Linked DNA regions of Homo sapiens. The protein of the gene in region 1 interacts with the protein of each later gene in a biochemical or structural test. Each region holds a gene or a part of one and is shown on either strand. Other genes may lie near its edges. The genes, in order: EDEM3 and TXNDC5.

The links.
Region 2: the proteins of EDEM3 (region 1) and TXNDC5 form a complex in vitro, tested with the Homo sapiens proteins (one study listed by BioGRID).

What each region holds. Positions count from the first base shown.
Region 1 is NC_000001.11:184,689,737-184,704,726, reverse strand, and holds the end of EDEM3 (ER degradation-enhancing alpha-mannosidase-like protein 3 isoform 2 precursor), read left to right. Parts: intron 1-1,730; coding exon 1,731-1,916; intron 1,917-3,182; coding exon of another isoform or gene 3,183-3,230; intron 3,231-10,254; coding exon 10,255-10,664; 3' UTR 10,665-14,490; downstream 14,491-14,990. UniProt on the Homo sapiens protein: Involved in endoplasmic reticulum-associated degradation (ERAD). Accelerates the glycoprotein ERAD by proteasomes, by catalyzing mannose trimming from Man8GlcNAc2 to Man7GlcNAc2 in the N-glycans.
Region 2 is NC_000006.12:7,903,126-7,918,808, reverse strand, and holds the start of TXNDC5 (thioredoxin domain-containing protein 5 isoform 1 precursor), read left to right. Parts: upstream 1-8,020; 5' UTR 8,021-8,032; coding exon 8,033-8,295; intron 8,296-8,731; exon of another isoform or gene 8,732-8,996; intron 8,997-14,085; coding exon 14,086-14,235; intron 14,236-15,683. UniProt on the Homo sapiens protein: Protein disulfide isomerase of the endoplasmic reticulum lumen involved in the formation of disulfide bonds in proteins. Can reduce insulin disulfide bonds.

The DNA.
Region 1 (14,990 bases):
TTCTGTGGATAAATAAATAAGAGATGATGATCCTTACTCTCAGAAATTTTTTTTTTTTTTTTTTTTTTTTTTTTTTTGAGACAGAGTCTTGCTTTGTCACCCAGGCTAGAGTGCAGTGGCATGATCTTGGCTCACTACAACCTCCACCTCTAGGTTTAAGTAGGTCTTATGCCTCAGCCTCCTGAGTAGCTGGGATTACAGGCACGTGCCACCAAGCCTGGCTAATTTTTGTATTTTTAGTAGAGAAGGGGTTTCGCTGTGTTGGCCAAGTTGGTCTCAAACTCATGGCCTCAAGTGGTCTGCCTTGGCCTCCAAAAGTGCTGGGATTACAGCCATGAGCCACCGCACCCAGCCAAAAATTTAATTTTTAATGAGAAACTTTCTTGTGTTGACTTCTTTCTCCTGAGTTTTTTGTTTCTGACAAAGCATTTTGTTTTTGTTTTAATTGTATATAAATGAATAAATTAGGAATTAGCTGTTTTTTGTTGCAAGGGTTAGAAATACGAATTATCTTAGAAATCATGTGGCTGCAGGAGATAATTACGTTGGTTTAAGAAGGGAGGTTTTTTCACTACACAGAAATGGATTATTTTTAGTGAATTAAACAGTACAAATACAACTAGGATTCACCAGGAGGTAGAAGTGGGAACTAAAAATCACCAGGATCCATGATAGTGAATGTTTTTCACTTTTCTCTCTGTATCTCTACCTCTGGGTCCTTCTGAACTTTTCTTCCCTGCTTCTCTTTGCAATTCTGCTTCATTTTCCAGCTTCTCACCAGCCTTCTCTCTCTTTGTTCCTCAGTTCCAAAATGGCCATTCTAGTTTGCAGCCTCAGCCCCTAAGTCTGTGTCATTCAACTGGACTATTACCCCCTGCTAACTGAAACAGTCTTTCTGTGTGCCAGTTCCAGGTCCCCCAGAGAGACTCAGGGTCAGGTAGCCATCTTTTGTCTAATCAATTATTACCAAGAGGATGGGTCATGCATTCTGCACTTAGCAGGTCCTATGAGAGTGAGCACCCTGAGACAGGACAGATAGTTTCTTCTGGGAGACTGGCATGCGATTTGGAGGTGGTCGTGATTGTCGTCTTCAGTAAAACAGCATGTTGCTGGTACTACTACTATTAATAGTTCTACTACTATTATTTAACCAATGCAAAATAGCAATACTGTTTAGTTTAGCTTATAGAGGAAGAAGCACTATAGTCATAACTATTCTTTGTGTGCATTATATAAAAAAGAAATGTCCATTTTTAGTTTGGTAAAACAATGTAATCATGCCAGTAGTGGAAATTTTCAACAATAAAATTCATTCATAGTTCTATCACTGTAATCCGAGTCATTGATTTTTTCCTTTCTAGGCTTTTCCATAAGCATATGAAATTTTTATAGTCATAATCATAGAATTCTGTATTCTACTTTTTAAATGTATTATTATTCTGTGTGTCCTATCAAGTAGGTCATTATAATTTACTTATAATGGTGTACAGTTGTTTACAATTATAAATAGTCTAGTAAAATTATTTGGGCATAGGGCTTTTCGCTACTTTTGAATTATTTCCTTTGGATACGTTTCTATGAGAATTAATGGGTCCAAAAATTATGTTGGTTTTTATGGTTCTTGATGCATAAAATTAATTCTGTCATTGTAAAAAATCAGTAACAATTAGTAGATAGATCTTTTTAATGGCTGGATATTTTGATGTTTGCTGTATTTATTTTCTGGCTAGATGACAATGAGGGGAGCAGCAGTGATACTGCCCCTCTGTTCCAGATGGCAGGTGATGGAAAGGATACAGATGACATCAAGATCCCCATGCTGTTCTTATTCAGCAAAGAAGGAAGTATCATACTGGATGCCATCCGGGAATATGAGGAGGTAGAAGTGCTCCTCTCTGATAAAGCAAAAGATCGAGGTAAGAGTAAAATACCATTTGTTTTTTTATGCAGCGTAATATTAATTTTGCTAGTTTGATAACAAGAATGAGTCACAAAAAATTGTTTTGGGGGGTTCACTGTGAAAACAAGTAAAACTTTTAGAAGATGATTTCAAAATATATTTTTCTTTTGGAAATAAGAATAATAAAACATTTATTTTGCTTTGTTTTCTGAGTTAGGATGTTTTTAGACATATGTTTTTATGTGTGATTTGTAATTTTTGCCCTGAGTCTGTTCAGGTGATAAAAATACAAGAGACTGCTTCAGGAAAGCCATTTTAACATCCGGAAATGTTCACAATTTGATTTCACTGATACTACATCTTACATGTCTTTTATAAGGAATGAGAAGACATATATAGAATGTTGTATACAATATCATAGTAGTTAGTCTCAACAGGCCACCTATAATCAAATGACTGCTGTCTTGGTGAAGGCAATAGAAATCTAGCAGCTTCTTCCCAATGAGATCTAAGTTTATCACATGGATATAAGAGTTACAAATGGCTGTTTCTGAAAAACAAGATAGCATGTCTTAATTTATGAGAGTAGATAGTCCTCTGTAGGCCAAAATGTTTGTTAGTAATTTGAAATGTCTTTGAAACCCAAATTACAATATAAATGCAAGGCCTTACTAGTATTCTTACATAGTTTCACACCCAGGGATAGAGGAGAAATGAGGGAATGTGAGCCTTCAGATCTTGCTTGTGGTAGCAGTCTTTCCTGTCTGCTGGAGAGACCTGAAGAGAGAGCTAAAGTTCTCCCATACCCTTAAATAGATGAAGTTGCATAATAGTACAGGGTTGTTACATCCCCTGGGGTGTTTGACAGATATGTAGGAAACTGATTCAATTCAATGTGACTTCCAAGTGGGACATTTAAAAAAAAATGTTCGGTGATAATCATGCTAGCATAATCATGCTAGCCTAATTTTGTCTTCTTGTATTGCTTTATTCTTCTTTGAGATTCTTTGAAATGTCAATTATTTATGAGCAATGGAGTGAGCAAGTAGGTTGTTTGTATATAACAATGTATAGATGGAAACAGAACAGAATACAAAGGTTTTCTAGTCTTAAATCCTCTGTATACCTGATTTTTTTTTCCTGGGCCCTTTTCTAAACTCAGATCTTCTTGCCTACATATATGCATTTAGGCACATCTAACATAGGCAAATTATTATTTCTTGTAACTCTTTAATGCATTTGCTTTTTTTCCCCCTATTTTGTGCTACCACTGGAATTTCAGCAGCAATATTAAAAGGTAAAATGATTCCAAGCTACATTATTAATAGTAGTAAGTATCTTGCATTAACAAGCCTTAAATTATATACGTATATATGTATTTGGGTGTGTGTACACACACTCAAGTACATATATAATTTTGTTTCAGTGGATACCATGATAATATCTTGTGTAACGTAATTAGATTATTTTCATGTCTAGTCAGCAGTCACATAATAATTTTAAATTCTAATAATTATACATCCCATACAATAGATGAATTCTATGTCTATGTCCATACAAGAGTCACTCTAACAAAGGCATTGTTGTTTTAGTATTTATTACTTTGATCACATTTTATTTGAACACAATGTAAAATATTTAAAGTATTGACTTGTTTTAAAAGCTCATGTGTGTGTATGGTACATGGGTTAGGACTACAGGATTATGGTACAGCATGTGCTTCCTGTACCAGAGAAAGGTTATGAGACATGATTAATTCTACCAGAAAATAAGAATTCTTGGTGAACAGTATCCCCTTAAGGACCTTGCATTAAAAGGGCATTATTTAAAAGATATTTTTTGAAAACTTTAGTCTATAAATTTATTGAACTGTGATTGTTATAGAGTGATCTTTTGATAAAAGTATTGAAAAGCCCCCTTTTTGTGTAATAGCTCTTTATAGAACTGTACAGCTATATTAATTAGCAACAAGATACAGTCTAATTGTTAATATTTATTAATGTAACAGAAATCAATGGTAATAGTGTTATGAAATCAACAAATGTATTCACTTAGGATATCCTAAGAAGCTACACAGTCTGTAGCGGTTATCATTTGTCCTATACCATTACTACATACATCAGTGTTTCTCCCCTGCATCAGAATCAACAGATACACTTGTTAGAAGTGTTGGCTTCTGAGTCCTGCTCCAAATATTCAATCAGACTTTCTGATTCAGACTTTATGATTGGGAATCAGAATCTGAAACTTCAAACAAACATCCCGGGTGATTGTGTTGTAGCTGCTTCCTCAGCTACACTTTGAGAAATATTGAACAAGATTCAGAAAGCACCCCTTTTTTGTCTCCCAGCTATGTATCAGGCCATATTGTACCATTACAGGTACTAGTTAACAGATTATATAAGTACACTAAGTAACAACATCCTTAAAATCTGAACAATAAAATGTTCTCCAGATTGCCTTTTCTAGAAATGTCATTCCACAAATACGTATTTTTCCATATGAAGTCACACAATGCTGATTAAGAAGTCCTTTTCATATTTAATACAGAAAATAGAAGCCCTTAAAAAGCCTTCACTCCTGTCTTCTTCTTCTGATAAGTCCATGCCATTAGTATAGATGTATCTGAAACTGTTCTGCTAGCAGAAATTTTCTGGTCATCTTAATACACATTTAGAAGCCAAAAAGCATTAGCATTTTATCAAGTGATGTTGCTTCCTTAGGTCAAACCTGTGACACTTCTGAAAGTTAAGCTATCCACAGTCTATTGTTGAACAGAATTTTCAATATCATATCTCTCAGTGTTTCATTTTTCCAAAATTTCAGTTTGTAAAGGTACTTAATTATTCCAACCGTGTGCCCACAAACAAAAGGCAATGTTTTGTTACCTTTAGGTCCAAATTGAAGCAGTTTACAATTAAGAGTAAATTTCCTTTTTTCAATAGTATTTGTCACAGGGAAAAAAACATCAGCATTTTTAAGTTCCAATTCATTGTCATGCTTGCAGCTTAGAGTGTAAGCCTATAGTGCCTTAAGGGCTCTAGACAAATGCTTTCAAGCAACTGTATTTGTCTCTATCTGGTAAAGAGCCAGACAGAGAAAATGGAGGAAAGAAAAAAAAAGGTTCCATCATTTGCAATGCTCTGATTTAAGTCAGGCAGGGTCACTTTTCCTGATTATCCCCCACTGAATTTGATTGGTGTGAATCTGTTCTACAGCTGAACTGCACACCTTAAGTTGCTGTTGGAAAGGATTTGATTCCTAGGAGAAAAATCTAGTACATATGCAGATGAACTCTACCTGGAGAGAAACATCTGAAACATTCTTCTTAGCAGAATTGATACTTAACCTTCCCTTCTCCATCCAAGACATGTTTTCTCATGCATTTTCACATTTGCGCCATCTCTTCCCTTTTTCTGGAAGTTCCCTATCAATCCCTTTTCCTCTCCCATGGCCCTTTTCCTCTTTGAGAACATTTAGATATCCTAAATTTCAAATGCCACCTCCTAGGTAAAATTTAAGGGTGTCCTTTTAATACAGTTCTACTATGATAGTTAAATAGTTCTTTACCTGCTTCTCATCTCTATATTCCTTGCTTTCAGTAAACATTTAATGTACAGATGAATGAATGAATGAATGAATGAATGGTTCTAAAACATCCAATCTCTAAGTCTTTGCCAAGGTTCACTTCCTCTTTTATTATTAAAACATACTGATTTTGTTTCTCTGTATTTTGAGATTTTCTCCATTCTTTCTGTGTTTCTGATGTACCATTCCTGAATTTAATATTGTGGTTGTTATGCTCTTACGACTTTGATCTCACATACTGGTGAAAACAGGCACCTTAGGATCAAGATTTGTAGCAATGTGGCAGACTTTAACTCTTCTATCTTTTTGTAGTTCTCTAACTGCCATTTTTACTTTCCTGATTGTTGCTTTTATTTCTGGTTCTATAGCTCCTTCAGCTTGCGAAAACCAAAATATTTTCTTCCATGGGCATCTTCTTCAAAGTTCTTCTCTCTGTCTCTCTCTCTCTGTCTCTGTCTCTCTCTCTGCTTCTCTACATTTAAATTTAGTTGGCCCCTGGTGACTTTCCTATAGTGCTGCATAGAATAGTTATTGGTATCTTTTTAAAAACTTTATAAAATTAAACTTGTAACAAATTAAACAATCCAGAAGTGTATTAAAAACTTTTAAATAATCTCTCATCTTTCTGAGATAACCAACCAATGTTAGCAGTTTGATGTGTAATCTTTTATATTCTTCTTAGTGCTTTATACATTTCTAAATATATGTATCATTCAGTAACTTGCCTTTTACAGTTAAAGCTATATTAAAGACATTCCTCCAAGTTAGTAGGATAGCATAACTTATTCTTTTGAAAGCTGCATTATGTTTTGCATTATCACTGTACCATAATTTATTTAACCATGTCACTATTAGGCGTCCAAATTATTTCCAGGTTTTTGTTTTGCCACTGTATACAATGGTGTAGGTAACATTCTCGTACATATCTTCTTAGATATGCATACTTTTTCTAGAATATTGAGATTTACTAAAATGAAATGCTGGCAGAAAGTATATGGGTCGTTTTCATTTTAATGGATGTTGCAAGTTGCATTCCAAAAAAGGTTGTAGCAATTCACATCCTTTCCAGCAAGATATGAGAGTACATGTTTCTTCCTATTTTAGTCAGCATATTTCCCTTTATAGGTATATTTTTTGTTTTTTCTCTTTATGGATTGCCTAGTCATATGTTTTGCATTTTGCCTTCTTTAAATAAGATTCTGTGTCTTTTCTAGATATTTTATAGGACCTCTCTGTTTGTGTGTGTGCGCATTTCCTATATTTACATACATACTCATAAAGAAATAGAGGTTCTATAAATTATCTAGAAAAGACACACATATAGGGACAGAGGTTACACACACACACACACAATTTTCCCAACATGTCATCTTTTCACTTTGTTTATGTAACTTTCATAACATTTTTAGGTAATCAGAAATATTAATTCCTTTGAGGCTCCTGGGTCTTCTGTCTCACTTCAGAAGATCACTCCATCCTGTTTTTACATAATATTTTCCTAAATTCTTCTGGCATTTTTACCATTTTTTACATTTTGGTCTCTAAATCATATGGAATTTTAAAATAAAAGTTAGGAGTCTTTCCAATTGAGTTGTCAGTTACTAAATACCATTTATGAAGCAAACCACTCATTTCTCCTTCAGTTAAACTACCATCTTTGCTATATATCAAATATTCTTGCATAGTTGGATCTGCTTCTAGACTTACCCTTCTCTTCTACTAATGTGTTTATTCCTTTGCCAATAATAAAAGTTTGCTGTTTTGAGTATATTTTATTATCTGATAGGGCAACTCTCCCCTCACTGATTCTTAGAATTTCTTGGCTTCTCTTTGACATATGCTGTTCCATAGAAACTTTAAATTAATTGTATCTGGTTCTAAAACGAAAACAAGAAGTACAAATGAGATTCATTTTGAAATTATATAATTGCATACTTTACATATAAATTAGGAAAATGTTAAATATTAAGACTTCATTTAAGAATATACCTATAAATTTAATCAAATCTTGTTTTATGTTCTCATTATGATTTTATTTAAGCAACGTGGGTCTTATACCTTTTATAATAAATTTAATTCTATGTTTTGTAGCTTTTTATTATGAAAAGGTTTAATGATTATATTTTAACTATTTATTGTTACTACAAAGGAGTTATTGGTATTTGCATAGTCTTCTTACCAAATTTTTTTTATCAATTCTAATAGTATTTTTTTATTAAAGTTGCTTTGACAGTGTACGATCACAATCTGAAAATACAAATAATTTGATCTTTTTCTATATTTACATTGATTATTCTACTTTCTTGTCCGATTACATCAGCTAGATTTCCAAAATAATATCGTATATGTAACCCTAGGAGAGTTTTTTATCACAAGCACAATCTTCATTACCAGGTAAAACAACCCTACACCTTTTCCTCTCCTTCTAATCTGGAATAATACAATCTAGAAAGAAACTTGGAGATTTTTCTTTTTGTTCTCTCTTGAATTTAGGGAACCTAGGATAAATAAGCTGTAAGTAGCCAGCTACCTTCTTTCTTTGGTCTGCACCATTGGTTTCCCTAATTGCCTAATTAAATTGTACCTTTTTCACAGCTTAGAAGACAGAGATTGTGTGGAATTCCTCAATCCACCCCCTGCTGATCCTCCCCTCCGGAAAAAAAACCCTAAGAATGTAAACTTTCAGAGTCAAGTAATCCCATCTAATCAGGGTGAACATATATGCATTGTAGGGGCAGAAAGGGGTGATCCTTTCCTCCCCATCATAAAGGGTTACAGCGGACACCCCGGGTTAAAAAAAAACAAAAACAGGTTAACAACAGAAAAGCATAATAATTTTATTATGTGTACGTGTGTGCACAGGAGCCATACAAAATATGAAAGGGGACAGGTGGTTGAAGCTTAAATACCCTCTTCTTAGGGTAGAGGAATACTAGGGAATGAAGAGGTCCAGTGCTTAGACAATGATTGGTAAAGGATTCTCTTTGCATAGTATCTAGATAAAGTCCCCCAGTTAATCTCTCAGCTGTCCTCAGAAGAACAGAAGAAAAGTCTGTTTGGGTGTGGTGAGGACCCCTGTCTCTACTCTTCTCTGATGGCTCATTTTTTTTCTCGTTATTTGATGAGAGTCCTAGGGAGGGATTCTTGAGACAATTGCATTTCATTTGGAAAGAAGCTTCCTTAGATAAGAAAATTCCAGAGAGAATCCCCCCAGTTGCTTCAGGAAAGAGGATCAGAGAGACAGGGAGGCAGGGGAAGGTCAGAGACAGACTGGTTCTGAGGCTTATTTCTGAGACCTTTCAGTTTTCCAAGCATTCATCATGCTGAAGCACCATATTTTGGGGAATTGTTTTCTGTGCCCCAGCAATACCCACCACACCTTCCTGCATGTCTACATTTCCTTTGTTTTTTCTGGTTTTTAAATAAATCCTCTTCCCTCCCTTCTTTGACATTATCTTATACTTTAAACCCCAGCTCAAGTGTCACTTTCTGAAGGAACTTTTTGAAGAAACTTCTCAAATCTCCTTACAGTTCTCCCTCTGTATCTGTGGGTTCTGCACCCATGGATTCAACCAACTGTGGATAGGAAATATTCAAGAAGAAAAAAGCATCTGTATTGAACATACAGAGATTTTTTTTCTTGTCATTATTCTCCAAACAATACAGTATACCAATGATTTGCATAACATTTACGTTGTATTAGGTATTATAAAGTAATCAAGAGATGATTTAAAGTACATGGGAGGATGTGTGTCAGTTATATGCAAATACTGTGTCATTTTACATAAGGGACTTGAGCATCCAAAATCCTTATCTCTCTTTCATAACGTGTCACAGTTGAGTTTTCTATTTATTTTCCGTGATTATTTGTATAATATCTTTTTCTCCCGTTGGACTATAAGACCCATAAGGGCAGGTATAGCATTTGGTATTGCTCCTCATTTTATCCCTAGCACTATGCAAATGATGACTTGGAGGATATTTGCTGGCCAACTGCATCACAGAGGCAGAGACTGAACAGGATGTAGCATGTAGGCGTCGATGCTATTTAAGCACTTTCTTGTAGGAACCCTAAATAAAATGCCTCTACTGGTTTCACTGTATATTCATTATAAGAGGTTTAACTCACTCTTCAGCCTTCCAGTGGATTTTAAAATGACTATATCTTATAATTCATAGGCCTAAAATAATAGAATTTTATGAATAATCTCAGTTCTTGTCTTGTGAAAGTATTTCTGATCAGTCACATTAATACCCTTAGTCATTCAAAAAAATCTATGTTATCTGCTTCTTTATGACTTACTGAGTAGGAATTTCACTTTTCAAAGGAATATTATTTGAAAATATAGCAATGATATATGCTGTTTAAAATTGATTCTGTTTAATATGTTCTTATGCATAAGCTTTAGGTATCTAATACATTTTAGCCATACATTGCAAATCTCTATATATTTTAATATTATTATTGGTTAGCGTACTTCTTGGCTTACTAATGTCCACTGATGTCAGTCTTAGTTATTGTCATTCCTTCCAATTTGGAAGAACGTTTATTTTCTAACACTGACACATTTTGCACAGTGAATCTATAGGAAAATGTGACTGCATAAAGACAGTCTTCATTTCAGTGCTGATGCTCACCTTTCTGCATTAACATGAGTCTCTTTCACGTTTTATTTCATCTTGTTGCAAAAACCAATATGCTTTGGAAAGTGTAATAGTACATTTTTTTAGAGAAGTAGCATGAGGTTTGTTTCTTTCTCATACAGATCCTGAAATGGAAAATGAAGAACAACCATCCTCTGAAAATGATTCTCAGAATCAGAGTGGTGAACAGATTTCATCAAGTTCTCAGGAGGTTGATTTGGTTGATCAAGAGTCTTCTGAGGAAAATTCTCTAAATTCTCACCCAGAATCATTATCTCTAGCAGATATGGACAATGCTGCAAGCATTTCCCCTTCTGAACAGACTTCTAATCCCACAGAAAACCATGAGACTACAAATCTTAATGGTGAATGTACAGATTTAGATAACCAGCTTCAAGAACAATCAGAAACTGAGGAAGATTCCAATCCTAATGTTAGCTGGGGTAAAAAGGTCCAGCCTATAGACTCCATATTAGCAGACTGGAATGAAGATATAGAAGCATTTGAAATGATGGAGAAGGATGAGCTATGACTTGCTAAACAATCTGTTGGTAGGTATTTAAAAAGAAAAGGTAAACTGTGTGTGGTTAATAGACATCCTAATACTAAGCAGGCTTTCTAATGGGAGGCTTTAAGTATGGTGATGAACAACCACGTTCTGACTGGCGTAGTTATCGTAGGAATCTGGAGCATGCTGTGTTAGAATTGACCTTGTTTAAAACTGTCCCATCAAAAATGGAAATCCACAGTTCCCCCTTCAAATGCAGCACTGCACCACCCTGCAACACCTCAGGCCAGGGAAAGATTACTGAGCATTCCTGCGAACCAGATTTCTGTTGTCTCTGGATAGACAAGAAACAAAATTCATTTAGTAGTGGAGTGGGGAATAGGAGTTTGGATAGCCTTCTAATTAAAGGAAGCTCGCCTTTCTTGGTTTTGGGGGTTAGAGGCTCTTTTGGGAAGATGCATCCGAGTATTGTGGCATTCTGATTATGCTGCCTTCACAAAACACTCTAAGTGACCTAAGTGGTTATGAAGCAAATGCATTTATGGTGAAAACAGTCTTTGCTCATTGCTTTCTCTTGTTTCATTTAGTGACAAATGATCAAGATGACTTGATTTTTTTTCCTTCTTAACAATGTCTTTTTTATTTAAACCAAAGGTGAAGCCAGTGTACTTTCTCAGTGAGTTCTCTGCATAAAGACTAATCAGTGGGACCAGGTAAAAAGGTCATATAATACATTGTGGAGATTGCTTACTTAATACTTCTGAAAAATGGAGTAAGGGAGAAACTGTAATGTTGCAATATGAACCTCCCATTGGGCCTTCCATAGGGAAAGCTGTGACTACTCTGAAATGGAACCTAGCATTATATCCTTGTAGGGTAGATTATAAATCATTTCCAGTTCATTTCTCTTAGAGGTGATTACCTCTAGCCATCAGCCTTACTCCATCCCATGTTTGGTATGCAATTTGAGCCACAAGGCTCGTATCGCCAACAGCTATATACATTTTGTTCCATTTTTCTGTCTTACAGAGCCATGATAGAACTGTGGTTAGTGAGTTAAAATTCCTGGAGTAACTACTGTTTTTCTCCTTTGAAACTTAGGTTTCTAAAGTTGCACCTAAGGAATCTGTCACATTTTCTGTTGAATCATGGTTTTTGTTTTTGTTTTTAACAGATATTCCTTCTGATACGGACTTGAAAATTAGTGTATGGTGACCTGTGTTTAAAAAAAAAAGTACAATACAACTACATATAGCTATATAGCTTAATGAGACTTCCACCCCCCCCCTTTTTTTTTTTGGTTTGTTGTTGTTGTAGTAGTCTGGTGCTGGCCACATTTAAGTCTTAAAAATTTTTAAATTTTGTTGTTGATGTTTGTAGACAGCCCTGTTGTTGAAATCATGGCTTTATTCATTTTATTTATTTTTTAAACTTGCCTGAATTTGTTCTAAAGGAATATTTAAGAGACATAATTTTCTTCTCTTTACCATAACATTACACAAAACTTTTTCCTAAAACACGGTTGTGAGGTACTGATGAGGTGTAAGTGGAGCTGTTAAAAACAGCAGTGCTGTATTGCAGTTATGTATATTCGTGTACAGTATGTTTAGATCCCAGGTAAACATATTCTTTTCTGAGAGGATAAATACCTGCATTCAGATATTCCAGGTAAATATAATTGAGTCAGGGAGTAGTAAATCTGATGGAGAATTCACTTTGGGGAGGGGAAAAAGAATAGTATGCAAGACCCTTATTGGCTTTTAATTATACCTGAAACCAAAATGGATATTTTTAGTCTCTCTGCATGTGAGATTTGGTGTAACAAGATAGAACTATAATATATACAGTATATGGAAGGATAGATATAGTGCTTTGTTCATTTTAATTGCAAAGCTGCCAAAATAGTTGAAGCTTAATTACTTGACTTGCCTTGATTTATAGGACTGGGGCTTGGAGAAAATGAGCAGATGTTCCTCTAAGACATCGATTACAGAAGCCTTATATACATGGATTTGATTTTGTATTTGTAGCTGAAAGTCACTGTTGTCTAAAACTAACTTTTCTAAGTTATCAAAACAACCTAATTTCTTTTCCAACAAGGAGAACTTAATGGCATGAAGGATTGTGTGACACATTGGAAAAGCCAGCTTACTGCCACTCTCTTCCTTTGGCCATTAGAGGGAGGTGTTGCCTTTCATTGACGCTTAGAAGCAAATTGTTCACTTGTTAAGAAAAGTAAATCCTTAAAAAAAGAAAAGGAAAAAATTTAACCAATTTTTCTTAATACCCAGAAGGAATTATACTCAATATTTCCCTAGTTAAGAAAAGAGGAGATAATGTTCGTCTAAAAAACTCCAACGTTGTAATTACAACTCTACATTCATTTACTTACTTGACATACTGCCACAAAGTAGTTTTTGAGTTCATTAAAAATTCCAAAGGCATTAGTTGTTTTTTTTTTTTTTAGTGTTTTGTTTTTTAGTTAACTTTTATAGACATTTTAGTAACTTGCTAAAGATTCAGGGGATTCTATGAAACCCCGAATTTAGAAACATCTGGTCTACCTCAGTTAAATGTTGACTGCTTAGAAATATAGCTGAAGTGATCACCACAGCCATAAAATTGTTTAAGAAAGATTTATATAATGTTTACAAATCTGGAATCAAGGATTTTAGCTGAAATCCTTTAAGAGATATTAGAGCAAGTATTTAATTCAGGTATTTTCAAGTTTTAAAACTTAACCTGTTTACCTACTAAAAATAAAATAGCTAGTTTTTTTCTGCATATAAAAGTTCATTGAAATGATATGCCCTTATTTGCAATACTTTTCCCATAAAGTTTTAAGTGTGAAAGAATTGTAATTTACTAGATATGTTTGGTATGGGATATTTTGTTAGGCAAGTTTTCTTTTTTCTTCTTAAATTGCAATAGGCTTCCAAAAAGAGTATAATTGTTTCAGAACAAATTAACTCTTGGCATTATACGTCTCCCTTTTTCTTTACAGTATTAGTAAAAAGAAAAATTGTACACTTTCTGATTTTAACTTCACTAATGTAATTACTCTCTCAAGAAGCTTTTAAAATTTAAATTACCATCACACAACCTTTTTTATAGTAAAGCCAACATTTGTTCTCTCACCAAACCCCATGCCAAATTCATCATGAAGAAAGCTCAGCATAAGTAATTCAAATACTGCTTATAATTTTAGAGGGGGGTAGAATTTAGTAAATATTCCAGCCGGTCGTTTTATGCACAAGGCTTCAGTCAGAACATAGAAAAAAAAAACATTCTGTGAATGAAATATTGTATGTTCAGATTTTATAAAAGACATTTTTAAAAGCCCAATTTACAGCCGTATATTTTCTTATGATGTAATTTATGAAAAAGATGTCTGTACTAACAGGTGCTGTAACACTACTGTTGTTGGATTTTATTGTTTGGTGATAAATGTATACAATATTTCTAAGGGAAACTATGTACTGTGATGTAAAAGTCTGGGCAAAATGTATATAATCCTGTATATAATTATGTATTTGATTATAATTACTGATTGTAAAGATTTAATAAAATATGTAAATATTCCAGTTTAGTTTTAATTTGAATTTTTAGAATCACTGTGCATATCCTCATACTTTTATGTCTTGATGTTTATCACTCTGTTTTCCTTTTTTTTTTAAACTCATTTTATCCTCCGGGGATTGAATTCTGGGGACATTTTAGGCTGTAGAAACCCAAGCTTGTGGGCTAAAGTAAGGATTTTGTTCTAAGAAATCACTGAAAGTTTTTCAACAAGTCAGTAGCATGCACAAAGGTAATGCTAAGTGAATAAAACTCTAGAATTGTGTATAAATTATGATCCAGCGCTTGCTCACTCTCTCCATACACATATATACATACACATTATATATATATACACACACATATATATAATGACATTGACTCATTTATTCAACAAAGATTAAGGGCGTGCATGCCTTCTGTATGCCAGGCACTATTATAGGACCTGGGGTTGTAGTGGACAGATGGACAAAATGTGGTAAAGAAGATAGAAAATAAAGTAGTAAGTAAAAAGGACAATGAGTTTATGAAGAAAAAATTATGGTGAGGGGATAGAGAGTGGTGGAAATCATGGAGTGAGTTAAATAGCCAAAATACTAACAGTGGTTATCTTGGATTGTAGGCAATTGCTATTTCCTTATTTGTATATGTCAGTATTTTCATAAGTTTCCAAAATAAGCATTATGCTTTTAAAAATAAGTAGTTTAGGTCAGCGAAAGAAGAGAACATGAAAAATACACACGAGGTGGGGCATAGTGGTGCACACCTATAATCGCATCTCCTCCTCAAGAA
Region 2 (15,683 bases), on another chromosome or scaffold:
AAATAGAGTGAAATTCTGTCTCCAAAAAAAAAAAAAAAAAAGGACTCAATGTATCAACAGTTGACATTCTTTCAGGCTGCCCAGCTTCACTGGACACCTTTCCTGCATTTGTGGAGCCTCTGACCTAACCGCCACAAGTTAGGATAGAGCATAGACCATTGAGCCCTACTGCAGTGAGGCTTCCATTGGAAGCTAGTTTTGCGAAGAAGCAGGGGTCATGCAAAGTCCATCCTGCAGGGCAGCGGTTGCAGAGGTTCCCATGGTCACATATAGTGTCCTGTACCAGAGGTGGGATAGGAGGAATCTGCATGTCGAGGTGGTAGCAGTGGTGGCAGTATTGTGATCTAATTTGAGCAGTATTGTGATCTAATTTGAGCAGTATTGTGGTCTAATTTGGGCATTGTTCCTGGCTTCTCTATCTCCTAACCCTAACCCTAACCAAGTGTTCCTCAAACATGTCTCAGTCAGAGCTCTTCTCTTAAGAAAACACCTATTAACTTCCAGCAAACATCAGCGTTCCTTTGGTGGTCTGCTCCACATCTGTGCTCTCAGAGCCCTGCTACAGTCCGCCACAGGCGCACCAGGGACTGAGATCCTGGCTGTGTCTCCTCTAATCCCAGGAATTCTCAACCCTAGGAAGTAGGACAAAGCCATCAGTATTGCTTTCAAGACCTAGATGATTGCAATGTGCAGCCAGAATTGAGAACCCCCAGGTAGGATAAACATTTTCCTGGATTCTGAACTTGGAATAGTGTTCTGAAATTCAGGCAGCTATGAAGAGCTGGCCCCTAAGTGCTGTGAGAGGCATGTCCCCATGCCCGTGTGGAATGCCACAGATCCAAGGCCAAGGCCATCACTGCAGGCCAGCGCAGCTGAGAGAGGAGTGGAACAACTCAGTGAGCAACCTGCATCAGGGAGAAGTCTTCTCTCCTGTTATGAAGTCCAGGTGCTGGTGAGCATCAGCTTCTGGATCAGCCTATCGGCCCCGCACCTGGGGACTCTGGGAAAAATAAGAACTCCTGTAATAGCATCTAGCAGACAAAGAGCTGGGAGAATGACAGGGGCATGAACGAGAAGAGCCAGCACTTGCACAGACTGAATGAGCTCCTGGGAGCTGGAGTGAGTGTTCTGTGCACTTTGAGAAACAGCACAGATCATTCAGCTTAGTGGTCATGATCCAGTCAACAAAGAAACTCTCTTTATTCTCCTCCCCCCTACCCCCGAGACCTCACAGATCCCACATGGATTTTGAAAGCTTTTATCTGCCAAATACCCGAATCTGTTATGTTATAATGTAATGTGGGTTTTTGGTGCTTATTAATTGTTTAGTAGGCTGTGTTGCCCAAGGAGCTTGTGAGAGTAGTGAGTAAATATGACCTTTCCATTAACCATTTCAATACACTGAAAACAGCTCTACTCCCTGTGTGACTCCAGCCTGGGAATTCACTTTGGTCTTTTTCTTTAGATTTTCTCTGATGAGAGCAATCCTCTAGCTTTTTCTCCACCTCTCAACAATCACATTTGAATGGTCACATGAGCTCATCAAGAAAAACACAGTTTTTCTTCTTCTTTAGAGGCACCTACCAAGGTGTTCTGACCAAATTAGAACAACAGGATGTAAATGCTTTCAGTACCTCCTAAAAGCAGTACTGTTCGCCCAATAATAACTCAGGATGCACCTGTTAAAGTGGTTCAAATGGTGGCATTTCAGTTTCTGAATGTCCTGGGGTTGTCTTGACAATGTTACAACACATTTGGGTCTTGTGTTATCCTCTGGAGGTGGAAAACAAAAGCTGTATTTTTCCCATTCAGTAGCCATTCCTCCCATGTCAGTTCTTATGTGCTCCCTGGGATGAGGACAGCTTCCAACGAGAGGCTTTGCCATGCACCTACAGGGCTGCTGTCGGAAGGGAGTGCAGCTCCTTGAAGGCTGTGGATTTGCAATAAGAAGGCAGCGTAGACCGGGCGTGGTGGCTCACGCCTGTAATCCCAGCACTTTGGGAGGCCGAGGTGAGTGGATCACGAGGTTAGGAGATTGAGACCAGCCTGGCCAACATAGTGAAACCCCGTCTCTACTAAAAATACAAAAATTAGCCGGGTGTGGTGGCAGGTGCCTGTAGTCCCAACTACTCAGGAGGCTAAGGCAGGAGAATTGCTTGAACCCAGGAGGCAGAGGTTGCAGTGAGCCAAGAGCATGCCATTGCACTCCAGCCTGGGTGACAGAGTAAGAATCTGTCTCAAAAAAAGAAGGCAGTGTAGCAATACTATTTTGCTAGAAGTAGTACTAACTTCTAACAATACAGACCAACATACCTATTGCCTTTTCTGCTTGGGAAAGGCCATGATTTTGAGGGGGGTCTCTCTCAAGCAAGCCATCCTCTGAGGGTAGACAAATGTGACTTTTCATCCATTCCTTCATGCATTCATTCAACAAACAGGTATCGTATTAGTCTGTTTTTGCGCTGCTGATAAAGACATACCTGAGATTGGGCAATTTCCAAAAGAAAGAGGTTTACTGGACTTATAATTCCAAGTGGCCGGGGAGGCATCCCAATCATGGCAGGTGAAAGGCACGTCTCACATGGCAGCAGACAAGAGAAGAGAGCTTATGAAGGAAGTCTCCCCTTTTTAAAACCATCAGATCTCATGAGACTCATTCACTATCATGAGAACAGTGCAGGAAAGACCTTGTCCCCATGATTCAATCACCTCCCACCGGGTTCCTCCCACAACACATGGGAATTGTGGGAGTTACAATTCAAGATGAAATTTGGGTGGGGACACAGCCAAACCATATCAGGTATTAAATGCCTGCTGTGTACCAGACATCACGTAAACACCTCTCAGGCCATGGGGCTTACAGTTTAGAGGGAAAGTCCGAGGCTAAACAAAATTCACACAACCAAATAATTACCCTTCTGTGAAGGGATATGGGGAGAAAGGACAAGATATTAGTGCAGGAAGCCTAACCCCAGCTGGAGGTCAGGGAATTTTTTACTGAGAACATTGTATTATTTCATCGCTGTACACAAATTCAGTTGTATCTTCACTTTTAGGCTTTCTGAGCTGGAAGCCACGCTGCTTGGCGATGGGAATCTAAGCAGGACCATGTGTGGCTGCTACCATATGAAGCAACATGTCAGTCCCTTGGGAGGGCTGGGAGTTCAGAGGAAGTGACGCTGAGCAGCCTGTGTGGAGGGGTGGCCGGGTCATGCAGGAAAGGCCGCATGTGAGAGAAGGTGCCAGGCACAGTGAGTCAGTTTGTTTTGGTGGAGCCTGGGAAAGAGATGTGGTTAGAAAGAGGGGTTCCTTCATCCAACACTTGTTGAGCCTCAACTGTATCCAGGCATTTGGGTGCTAGGGAGAGAGAAGTGAATGTGGCAAATAGCCCCTGGCCTTCGGGGAGCTTATTGATGGAGAAGACGGCCACCTTAACCAGCTAAGTCTGCAACAAAATGGCATCAAATGACAAAAAGTGTTATGCAGAAATTAAACAGCATGGCACTGGTGAGAGCTCAGTGGGCAGAGGGAGGCTGCTGCAGAGAGGGGCTTTGACTTGTCAATGTGGAAAGGCAATCGCCAGGCACTGAGGAGGTGGCGTGGGGGCAAGAGACCTGAGGGTGCAGGGAGTCCAGTCACAGAAGACAGGAAGGGAACAAGCACAGGGCACCACACACAAGGGCCTGAGAAGGGGAATGCTGGGAGGGTATCTAGAATCATCCCTAATGGCTAGAATCTAGGCGAGCAGAGGGCAGAGTGGTATGGGTTGAGATTGCATCTTTCCTGAAGGCCCTTGCAAGCCAAGGCAAAGAGCTGGAATTTGACTGTATGTGAAGGGAAGCCCCTGAAGGAAGTTAAGCAAAGGAGTGACACGATTCAATTCTAGCTGCTGGATGAAGGATGGATGGGAAGGACTTAAGAGTGGAAACAACATTCAGGAGGCTACTGTAGCAGACAGGAAGAGAAGGATATGGCAGCAGTGGAGAGATATCAGTCAGTGGGAGCTGTGGCTCAGAGATGGCAATGATTGGACTTGCTGATGGGGAGATCGAGTAGGAGGCGGGGATCAAGGCACTGCAATAAAGAAAAAGGGTAACAAAGTTTACAACTCAGAGGTCGGGGGTGGTGGCTCACACCTGTAATCCCAGCACTCTGGGAGCCTGAGGCAGGCAGATCACTTGAGGCCAGGAGTCTGAGACAAAGTTTGCAACTCAGGTTTCTGGTTTGTGCAACAGCGAGGAAGAACTATTTACTGAGGAGGGGAAATCGGAGGACAAGCAGATTGCTGCAGGGAAGCACAAGGTCAGCTTCAGCACACCTGCAGGACAAACAAGAGGAGGCATCCTGTAGATAGTGAGAGCTCAGAGAGAGGCCTCGGCTGCAAATGTACACTTTGGCAGCAGCATATAGATGGTGTTAAAGCCATGGCTATGGATGAGATCACCTAGGGAGTGATGCAGAGAAACAAAAGTGGGTTGGAGGCTGAGCGCTGAAAACTGACATCAAAGGTTGGGTTGAAGAGACTGAGGAGTGACGTGGGGATGGTAGGAGGTAGATCAGAGAAGCAGAAAGGACGGTGGATGCAGATGGGGCCAATGGCAGTTGTACCAACGCTGCTGAGAAGCCCAGGAAGATGAGGAACATAAAGTGTTCATTTGACTTGTCAATGTGGACATCTTCAGTGACTTTGAGAAGACTTGGTGTGTGGCAGGTTTGAGAGTCAGAGTGGCATGAGCTGAAGGATGAATGGAAAGTGAAATACAGATAATTTTTTTTTTTTTTTTGCTTATACACTGATGAAAATGGTCCAGTAGGAAGGAGTGATGAGTAACTTGTGCAGGAGAGAAAGAGAGGAGCTGAAGAACAAAGCCTTTGAGCAGGGAGCAGGGAGGGCATATGAGATTCCTAGGGCTGCTGTAACACCACACTCTTGGTGGCATAAAACCACGTACGTTTATTCTCTTACAGTTTTGGAGGTCAGAAGTCCAAAACCAGTTGCACTGGACTATAAATTGTCCACAGGACTGCAGGTCCCTCCAGAGGCTCTGAGGGGGAGTCTATTTCCTTGCTTTTTCCAGCATCTAGAGCTGCTTTTCCTGGCTCTTGGCCCCTTCATCTTCCAAACCAGCAGTTTAACATCTTCAAATCTCTTTCTGCTTTTGTTACGTCGCCTCCGGCTGTGTAGTCAAATTTCCTACTGCCCCTCTGTTATGAGGACACTTGTGATCACATTTAGGACCCACCGAGATAATCCAGGGTAATCTCTCCAGCTCACGACCCTTAATTTAATCACACCTGCAAAGCCTTCTGCCATATAAAGAAACAATCAGATGTTTCAGGAATTAGGACCTGGTTATCCGTGAGGGGCATTATTCTGGAGGACTGGGCTTTGCTAGGCAGGGATATACTGACTTGCTCCTTTGTGGGCAGAGGGAAAGGCGCCTGTGCAGGGGTGTGTAGATTTGGCGGGGGAGGGATAAGGGAGCTCATGCTTTTGGCTTCATTTTTCTCAGAAACATGAGATAAAGCTGGCAGCTGAGAGGATGGCGACTGACAGGGTGGGGTGGGGAGAGGAGAGGAGGAGCAGTGTCAGTGGAAGTATGGAAGCATCTCAGAGAGTGGGGCAGCACACTGCCTAGGCAGAGGTAGTCAGTTTTAGGGCAGGGGTGAGGAGGAATTTAAGGCTTATTTTTACCAGTGTGAAGGAGACATGCGGCTTGACTGTGCGATTTTTCTCCAGCAGAGTCTGGCTACCTGGTTGAAGGCACAGGGAACCCAGAGAGACAAAGCTCACCAGCATCTGTGGGGAGAATGTGGCAGGGCAGGAAGTGAAGGGTGAGACTCCATGGGCTGTAACTTGGCCAAGAGGCAAGAGAAGACATAGCAGTCTGTTGGGCTGCGAGGGGATTGTAGAAGATGGTGGGGTGGGTAGCTCAGAGGTCATGATGAGAAAGAAGCATTGCAGAAATGGGTTTCTTGAGCAAACAGTCGAGGAGGTGCTGGGCAGAGTGGATGCCTTCAGATTTTGGAGATGGTGCAGATGCTGGTGATGACAAGTGCTAGGGTCTCCCTTTTGGGTGTGAGTTACTGAGGGAAAGGTAGATGGAGCATCCACCTGGATGCTGAAGATGCCAGGAATGAAAGACAGGAAAGGGGTGGCCAGGAACACTGTGAGCCAGGAACCAAAGTCTTCACTGAACCAGGAAGAGTGATGTGGAAGAATGACAGGAACTGGCAGGGAAGAGGGTGCCATGCCCAGTGGCATCAATTTAAGGAGTACTGAAGGTTTTGTAGGATTTGGAAGGAGCAATGGGGAACCAGGAAGGCATCAGCTTTACTTCCTGGCTCTGAGGGACTCCAGGTGTGAAAGAATGAGCAGCCAACACTTGAGAGAGCTCCTAGAACTGTGTTTCAGTTAAAAACGAAAGACACTGATGCTGTAAGAGTGTATGGCGATGCTTGTGGGAATTTCCCAACAGCACCGTGGAAGGGTTTGGGAGGTTTGAGGTGTTGGAGAACACAGGGATTAGAGTTTGGCAATAACAGTTATTGGAGAGAATCCCTGGATTTCTAGTGTTGAGTGAGTTTCACAGGGACACAAAGCATGATGCAACCACATCACGGAAGGCCTTGAATGGCTGCCCCAGGCATGACTATTTCACCCCATCGGCCAAGGCCATGGGGACAGTGGTGGCGTTTTGGTCCAAGTTTAAGCAGCAAACTGTCTTGGTCAAAGGCAGGCTTTAGGAAAATTAATTTTCCAGCCATGTGAATGAAAGAGACTCTTAGAAAGCTACTGCAATAGGCCAGGCTTAGTCTCCGTTCAGGGTATGAACACTGAGAATGCTGGAAGGAAATCATGGTTACAGGAAATGCGGTTGAATTTTGAGACACACGGGAAAAGAGCGAGCAATACAAGATGCCTCCCATGTTTCAAGCTTAAGTGGCTGGAAGAACAGACTTTGGAGGGAGATTGATGGTTTTGGTGTTTGGCAACCCATGGTTAAAGGTTCATAAGTGGCTGGGCCTAAGGCGGGAGCAGAATAATGACAGGTGAGACAGTGGGCGCGTCCCCTGTTGCCAAGCCAGGAGTTAACTACCTGGGGCTTCCTGGATTGAGGATAATCAAAGAGCAGGCAGGATCCCGGAGAGCAACCCGGTGATTCTAATTTAGCTTCAGATCCCCGGGGTAGGGCTGGAGCTTTCGATTACCATCTGCTGTAAGGTGTGTGTGCAGGTGCGAGTTATGAGTCGCTGGGCAGGGATGCCTTCGGGCCATTCCACAGGCTGAGTTCAGCCATAGCAGGCGTGCTGTCATTCATTTTAGTAACCGGCATAAATGAGGGCACAGTAGGACCCCAGTCAGTCCTGCTAGGTGCCTTCTTGTCTAGAAGAGGCCGCTTTGACTTTCTTTCCTCTTCATCCCTGAGTTGAGGCCGGGCAGGGGTAACCAGCAAGGGGTTCACTTGGGAAGCGGGTTTCATCACCCCTCTGAGCCCAGGTCGAGAATCACAGTTGAGCTCTGGCCAAGAATCTAACTAATTCAGGTGCAAACCCCACCGTCTTTTGCCCGATTTCCTATATTCTGCTGACAGCAGCTCTCTCCTTCCTTTGGCCTGAAATCGCGGGGTGCTTGTGTGAGCTGAGATTAGCCGAGGCTGACCTGCCCCTCCGTGGCTTCCCGCTGGCCTCATCGTTACTTCGTGTGTTCACCGCCGCTCTGAGCAGAGCGGGCCCCTGGGGAAAGGGGTGCGGGCCTGGGTTGCGGAGGCGCAGGAGCCTCGCGGGATTGGGGCGAGCCGTCCCATGGCGGGAAGGCAGGAGGCCGGACTCGGAAGGCTCTCCCAGACTCGGTCCCTCGCTCCAGCCCTTCCCTGCCGGTGCGCGGAGCCGGGGCTCGGGCGGGTAGCGGTCGCGCGCCGGCGCGGGCGGGCGGGGAGAGGAAGGGGCGCGGCCTCTCCGGGGCGGGGCGCGGGGCGGGCGCTGCGAGGGGACCGGAGGCCGCGGCGAGAGCGCGCCCAGCCCCGCCGCGATGCCCGCGCGCCCAGGACGCCTCCTCCCGCTGCTGGCCCGGCCGGCGGCCCTGACTGCGCTGCTGCTGCTGCTGCTGGGCCATGGCGGCGGCGGGCGCTGGGGCGCCCGGGCCCAGGAGGCGGCGGCGGCGGCGGCGGACGGGCCCCCCGCGGCAGACGGCGAGGACGGACAGGACCCGCACAGCAAGCACCTGTACACGGCCGACATGTTCACGCACGGGATCCAGAGCGCCGCGCACTTCGTCATGTTCTTCGCGCCCTGGTAACGCCGCGCAGGCCGGCGCCCTGCCCCGCACTTGGCGCTTCGCGGGGCGTGGGGCGCTTGGGCGCCGCGGGCGGGGGGTCCCGGGGCCACGTGGACGCCGACGGCTCTGGTCTGCGGCGTGCGTGCTACGGGCGCGGGGCTCGGGGCTCAGGGGTGCGGGGTGTAATACTGGGGGCGCGGGGCCGGGAGCGCGGGGACCCTGCGGGTTCGGGGCTCCGGCTGGCGGGGAGCGGGGGGCGCGGGCGCCGCGGCTCGGGGCCGGGAGCCGGGGACTGCAGGGGACCGAGGGCTTGGGGCTCCGGGTCGGGAGGCGTGAGCTCAGCGGGCCGGGCACTGGCGGCTGACGTGGCGCTCGGCGGCCGGGGCGGTGCGGGAGGAGGGGGCGGACCCCTAGGGGACAGCCGGGAAAAGCCCGCCCTGCGCCGCGCTCCTGAATTCAACCGCCTCTTGCACCTCGGCACCGAGGGAGGGGAAGGTGGGGTCGTCGCCCTTTCGGGCAGCCGGGAGTCCAAATGTCACCCCGCGGTCCCTGCCCAGCGCCCCAAACTTCCTGTGCCGGCCGGACGCGCGGCCTGCCCGTGGGCCACGTGCACTCACCAGAGCGGCCTTGCTGCTGCCGCGGCCACCGGGGTCGGCTGGGACAGACTGCGGGCACGTCCCCTTCCAGAGGCTTTAACTGAAAAATAGAACCCAGGAAGGTGTGGTTTCCCACTTTGTGCGTCTTTTGTGGGATAGGAAGGAGTGGTCCGGGCAGAGGAGGGTTGCTGAGCTACCCCGGGAAGACCAAGGTAGTGCGAATTCTGGAACCCCTCCGCCCCCCTGCAGCTCAGGGTGGATGTAATCTCTGAACGGAGCCCACTGGTCCTCAACTCCAGGCTGTCCTGTCACCTCCCTGCTGCTCTCTCGGGTCCAGGTCACTTGTTATGTGTGAGATCGGAAAAGCCCCTCCGTTGAGCAGATGGTCCCTCTTGCTTTGGTTCTCTGGGCGAGGCTTTGGTGTGGGCCTCGCTGCTGACCTGAGAGACCCTACCCTGGCACTCATCCCACGGAAGAGCTTCCTGTCATTCACACAAGCATGTGCACAGCTTTCCTGCCAGTGCCGGGATGCCCCGAGGAAGGGAAGTGACCACAGGCCAGAGCAGAAAGCCATAATTTTAGGACACAAGACCTTTGAGAGGTTGGAATAGCCTGCAGGTTCTTGTTGCAGAACTTGGTATTCTTCCCCAGAGCTCAGTAGAGGCTCACTTGGGAAAGGGATGTAGGGAGGCATAGAGAAAAGGTACCCTAAGAAAAATGGCCAGTTCAGAAATTGTACCTTTCAAACTGGGAGAAACGTTTTTCTCTTAACCTTGTATTCAGGCTATTACTGCGTTTCAGTTCATTTGGAGTTAAATCAACTTTTAGGGCCACTGTGGGTTTATTAACAATGTGTATATGAAGTACATTATGTTTCACATTCCTAAGAACCAACTGACTCGAATTTTTACAACTCCAATGGTTTAGAAATTACTTTGTAACATAAAACAATCAGGCAGTATTAACAGTTTCTCTTTGTTCGGGAGTATTCTCAGCAACTATTTCAATTAAGTGTACTACTTAATTGGAGCCTATTTCAGTGGAATACATCTGTCGATGGGTTTTCTTTTTTCTTTCTTCATTATTTATTTATTTTAGAGATGGGATCTTGCTCTGTTACCCAGCCTGAAACCAGTGGTACGCAGCCGCAGCTCACTGTAGCCTCTAACTCCTGGGCTCAAGTGATTCTCCTGCCTCAGCCTCTGAAGTAGCTGTGACTACAGGCGCAGGTCATCACACCCAGCTTATTTTGTTGTTGTTGTTTTTGTTGTAGTTGGTAGAAACAGGGTCTCGCTATGTTGCCGGGGCTGGTCTCAAACTCCTGGCCTCAATCAGTACTTCTGCCCTGGCCTCCCAAAGTACTGAGATTACAGGCATGAGCCATCGCATCCCATTCTTTACTTTTTTTTTTTTTTTAAAGAAAAACTGACATGCAGATGTAATAAGTCCCCACAGTGCCAAAGGAATTTTAAGTTTAGAATCTTTGCAATAAATACCAGCTAGTCCTGGGCTGAGTGAGAGAAAACTGGCACATCTGGGCACTTGGTATTAAGTAAATTCCTTTTCCATTATATGTGGCTTGTAGACATTTAGCTGGATGCTTCCAGAATAATTAGCTTTATGTTGTTACTTTTTTTTTTTTTTTTTTTTTTTGAGATGGAGTCTTGCTCTGTTGCCAGGCTGGAGTGCAGTAGCGCAATCTTGATTTACTGCAACCTCCACCTCCTGGGTTTAAGCGATTCTCCTGCCTCAGCCTCCTGAGAAGCTGGGACTACAGGTGCGTGCCACCACGCCCAGCTAATTTTTGTATTTTTAGTAGAGATGGGGTTTCACCATGTTGGCCAGGATTGTCTCGATCTCTTGACCTCGTGTTCTGCCCGCCTCTTCCTCCCAAAGTGCTGGGATTACAGGCGTAAGCCACCGCACCTGGCATATTTGTTGACTTCTTGATAGTCTACTACAAATACTTAAACAGAGATATGTGGGTTTCTATGATGGTGTTTAAGTTGGACTTTTAAGAGGGCCCTTTCAGAAAACTGCAGATACTGCAGTAGGGCTCACGAATAGGCTGCCAGGAAAGGAGGCTGAGTGGGCGGCGAGTCAAATGGGAGGTCAGCAGGGGCAAGATCAAGTAGGACCAACAATACCTGGCACAACACTTTGGTAAGTTGTAAGGCTGAGAGCAAGGTGGTGACTCTGGAGGGGTCTATGCAGGAGAGGGAAGGAGGTCCTGGAGTGGTGAGCTGAGCGTTTGGAGCTCAGATAGAAGACTCAGTGGACTCCCCCTCAACACACACATACCTTTTTCCAGTTTCAGCTGCCGTGGAGTGGTGAAAGCCCACGTGTGATTAAGGGGCTGGGGCCCCTGTAACAAAAACATCAATCTGTGTATTTTTGCCCTGCACTTGGCTTCTGCAGGGTTATCCTGCTGCTGTAGATTTTTTGCCAACATCAGGTCACAACTTCTGTATGGCCAGTTTGTGAGTCACCCTGAACCTGGTGACAGTGAGGTCAAGATTTGGACCAGGTAGCTTTGCTCTACTTCTTGGCCACAGGCTACCTTCTGAGTGCAGCTGCCTGTCTCAGAGTTGGGTGCTGTAGCCGCAGGGCCGACTAGATAGCACCTGTGGCCCCATCACAGCCAGGAGCAAGGGCACGCCCAACTTGGTGATGGCCCAGAATGGTCAGTTTTGATTTAGCGCACCACAAACTTATTTATTGTTTATTCTCATTCTTAATCTAATCTTGTGTTTTCTCAAAAAAAAAAAAGGGAAAAAAAAAGCAGTAGCAAAACAAAACCTTGTCAAGATTGCAGAGGAGTTCTAAAGTTCCAGAATGAGCATATCTGATCAAAGTCCCCTGAAGGTCAGAACTGCCCTTGACAGTCCCTTAGGAAGGTGCCTTGTTGGACACCGCCCCAGTCAGTCAGTCAGTCCCCACTGCCAGCGTTTCCTCCAGCATTAGAACTATCATGGCTTCTTTGGTTAAACACCAAATGGACTAGTTCTCAAACCTGTGCCTTTAGACAGCAGGGTCACACTTAATGTAGTCGGAGAGATGCTCATGCCATGAGAAGCATGTAGGAACCAAGGCCTGCTGAGGAACAAAAACCTCACATCTCCCAGCTTGCACACACTTCAGGGTTCTGTGGGAATTGCCTTTTTTTTTTTCTTGTTTCCTTCTCCCCCGCCACATAAACTCACTTTGTTGAATCTACAGAAGTTAAATCTGCATGTATAGTTTCATTGTGCTTTTTTTTTTGTATCTGAGTATCTCATAAAGCAGGGATTCTCTTAGCTGGCCAAGAAAGTGCTGTTTAGGGAAGACACATTAACTTGAAGCAGACTTTTTCAGTGCTACCTTTAAGTCTGTTTTTCTTTTTTTTTTTTTTTTTTTTTTGAGATGGAGTCTTGCTCTATCGCCCAGGCTGGAGTGCAATAGCATGGTCTCGGCTCACTGCAACCTCCGCCTCCCGGGTTCAAGCGATTCTCCTGCCTCAGCCTCCTGAGTAGCTGAGATTACAGGCGTGTGCCACCATGCCCAGCTAATTTTTGTATTTTTAGTAGAGATGGGGCTTCACCTTGTTGGTCAGGCTGGTCTCGAACTCCTGACCTTGTGATCCGCTTGCTTCGGCTTCCCAAAGTGCTGGGATTATAGGTGTGAGCCACCACACCCGGCTTAAATCCTTTTTTTCTTAAGAGACAAAATCTCTGTCACCCAGGCTGGAGTGCAGTGGTGTGATCATAGCTCGCTGCAGCCTCAAACTTCTGGCCTCAAGTGATCCCTCTGCCTCAGCCTCCCAGGTAGCTAGGACTGCAGGTGTGTGCCACCACACCAGGCTAATTTTTTAAAATTTTTTGTAGATGGGGGTCTCACTGTGTTGCCCAGGCCAGTCTTGAACCCCTGGGCTCAAGCAGCTCTCCTGCCTTGGCCTCCCAAAGTGCTGGGATTACAGGCATGAGCCACTGCTACCGACTTAAATGCTTATTTTTGAGGTAATCTGTCAGAAAATAAAAGGAGATTTAACAGATTATTAAATTATTTTGAGGAAGAAGTCACAATTCTAAGCGTTGAGTGTTCATATAAGCAAGTGTGTTTAAAAAAAAAGCATTTTAAAAAGCGATACAGCAAAGTGGTTACATTGTAGGCATCAGTGTGTTCCTGCCATATTAAATAGCAAACAAACCCATGTGTCATAATGCTATGGGATTGTAGTTGAAACCTGGGATAAAGTTTCTAGGGTTGTCTCATTCAAAATTCGAGTATGGCACTGTAGACATACTGTCCAGAGAACACAGCAAGAGCTGTGGTCAGCTGTATGACTTAAGGTCTAGTGTTGGGAAAGATGCTGATATCCTCATGAAATGTGAAGCATGGCAAGAAGCCTAGTTAAGATACTATTTTAAATGATGGGTGATTTTAAAATATTTATACATAACTGAATTCATACAATGAATACTAAGAATAGACATTTGCTTACTTCAACCCTAGAAGTATAGGTGGCCACAAACTTTTTTTTTCCCCTTCTCATTGGAGAAAATTGCAGGTGATTAAATTTTGAGATTGCCTTATGTTTGTAGCCATTTGGTTATATAGTGGAGGAGACTTGACGAATAAAAGTAGCAGATACAGCAGGAAGTGCTAAGCTACTGTCCAAGGGAGGAGTAGAGAGGCTTTCCAGAAGGGCAGGAGAAGAGAATGGGTGCTGAACAGCCCGGGGAGTCAGGGCCAACTTGCTAGAGGAAGTGACACCCAAACTAAACCTGAAGGGCAGATAGATTTAGCTAGGTGGAGTTTAGGGACGAAGTGTCAGAGAGAATGTGTCCCAGGGCCAAGCCAAGCTATAGTCCTTTGGGAACACTGCAGATGCTGCAGTAGGGCTCAGGAGTAGGCCACAAGGGAAGGAGGGTGGACTCTGGGATAGAAGTCAAGCGGGAGGTCAGCAGGGCCAGAACAACTAGGATCCAGAACAACACTTTGCTAAGTTTAATACTGGAACAAGGCCAAGATTTCATGCTGAGAACAGGGCAGTGACTCTGGAGGGATGGGAGCAGGGGAGAGAGGTCCTGGAGTACTGGTCCAGGAGCTGCCATCTGCAATGGTGTAAAGAAAGGACTGAGAGCCCCATTGTCCCCTGGACAGAGCTGAAGTTGTGGGCCAGCTGCCCTGTGACCTGATACTCAATGTGCTTGTACTCTTGCCTTGTTCCAGGTGTGGACACTGCCAGCGGCTGCAGCCGACTTGGAATGACCTGGGAGACAAATACAACAGCATGGAAGATGCCAAAGTCTATGTGGCTAAAGTGGACTGCACGGCCCACTCCGACGTGTGCTCCGCCCAGGGGGTGCGAGGATACCCCACGTAAGTTGGAAGGAAGGGGGCACACTTCCTAGGTGGCTCCTGGCTACAAAGAAAGTCCTAGTTAAACTTTTGGTAAAGGTGTGAAGAGATACTAAATTTAAGCAGGCAGTCCCTGTCATTAGGGAGAAACTGCATTTAATGCTGTGTCTGTTTTAGATGGCTTTTATACTTGGATAACCTTTAATTCATCAGTGTTGGGTTTTCCTGTTTATAAGAGAATGTGTTTGCAAGAGAAAAATGACGGTCCCGCCATGCTAGATGTTCACCGGTACATTTTACACAGTGTGCATGGACTGTCATCAGTTTTGGCTTGCTTTTGCTGGTGACTTATTCGCAAACACCCTTCCTATAGTTCCTTCCCGTGTGACTCCCACAGGGCTGTTCCTGTTGGAAAGAAAGTATAGAGTCTGACAGACGATGATACTTACTTCCTTGACAGTTAAGAATTTTTTTGGTTATAAGAAATAGAAATTGAAATGTTCTCAATTCTAGAAATAGAATTGTTCTCTTATTAAACAGAAAGAAAGGACTATTTAAAAGGCTGTGGAGGAACCTCTGAGAGCCAGCTCCAGGGGCCTGGGGTCTGTTTCTCCTGCACCTCCCTTGAGATGACGGCTTTCCAGGCCTGTATCTCTGTTTGCACAGAAGGGCCCACCACTGACTGGCCCTGCTTGGCTGGAATGTTCGTTCCAGGAATAGTCACTGTGGCCAGGGAAACAGGAGCTTATAGCAAGACACATGCCCATTCACACCATGTGCCAAGTGTTGGAGGGAAAAGCAGTTCTTCAAAAAAGAGAAGAAGCTGTTTCTGAAGGAGGTGGAGGGATTGCCACGGTCACTTCCTTGCTGTTTGTTTCAATTGAGGAATGAAGTCAATTCTATACAATTTATTGCTTAATTGAATAATATAGGGGTCCATCAATAAAGCAAAAAATTGGAGCTTATATTCAAACCTGGGAGGCAGAAAAGTGGAGGGATCTCCAGGCTTGAACCTAGAAGTCGTAGTCAAATCCCAGCTCTACCATTTACTTACCACCCAGCTCTGACCTCATCACTTAACCTGTAAGTAAGGTGATCCCCCAAACATTGTTACAGGACTTACATGGAATGTGTGCAGACACCAATCTGAGCACACCCAATACATGTTAGGGTTTTCCCTACCATTTGGAAATGTGGGCGTTTCCACAAAGGACCCTGGAATTCTTGGTCTTTGGTGACTGCTTGCTAATGTAAGTGCCATAATTTGGGTTTACTTTAAATCAGATCAATGGAGATAAAATTGCTTACTATCTGTATCTACGTAAAAGCATTAACTATTCTATGCTTTATAGTATTGCATTGAAAGTATGGATCAAGAGCATCCCAAAGAAGCAGGTAGTGAGCAGAGATGAGGGCGAGGAGGTGAATGCTTACCTGTTGAGAAACTGTTGCTTTCAAAGTTCAGGGGC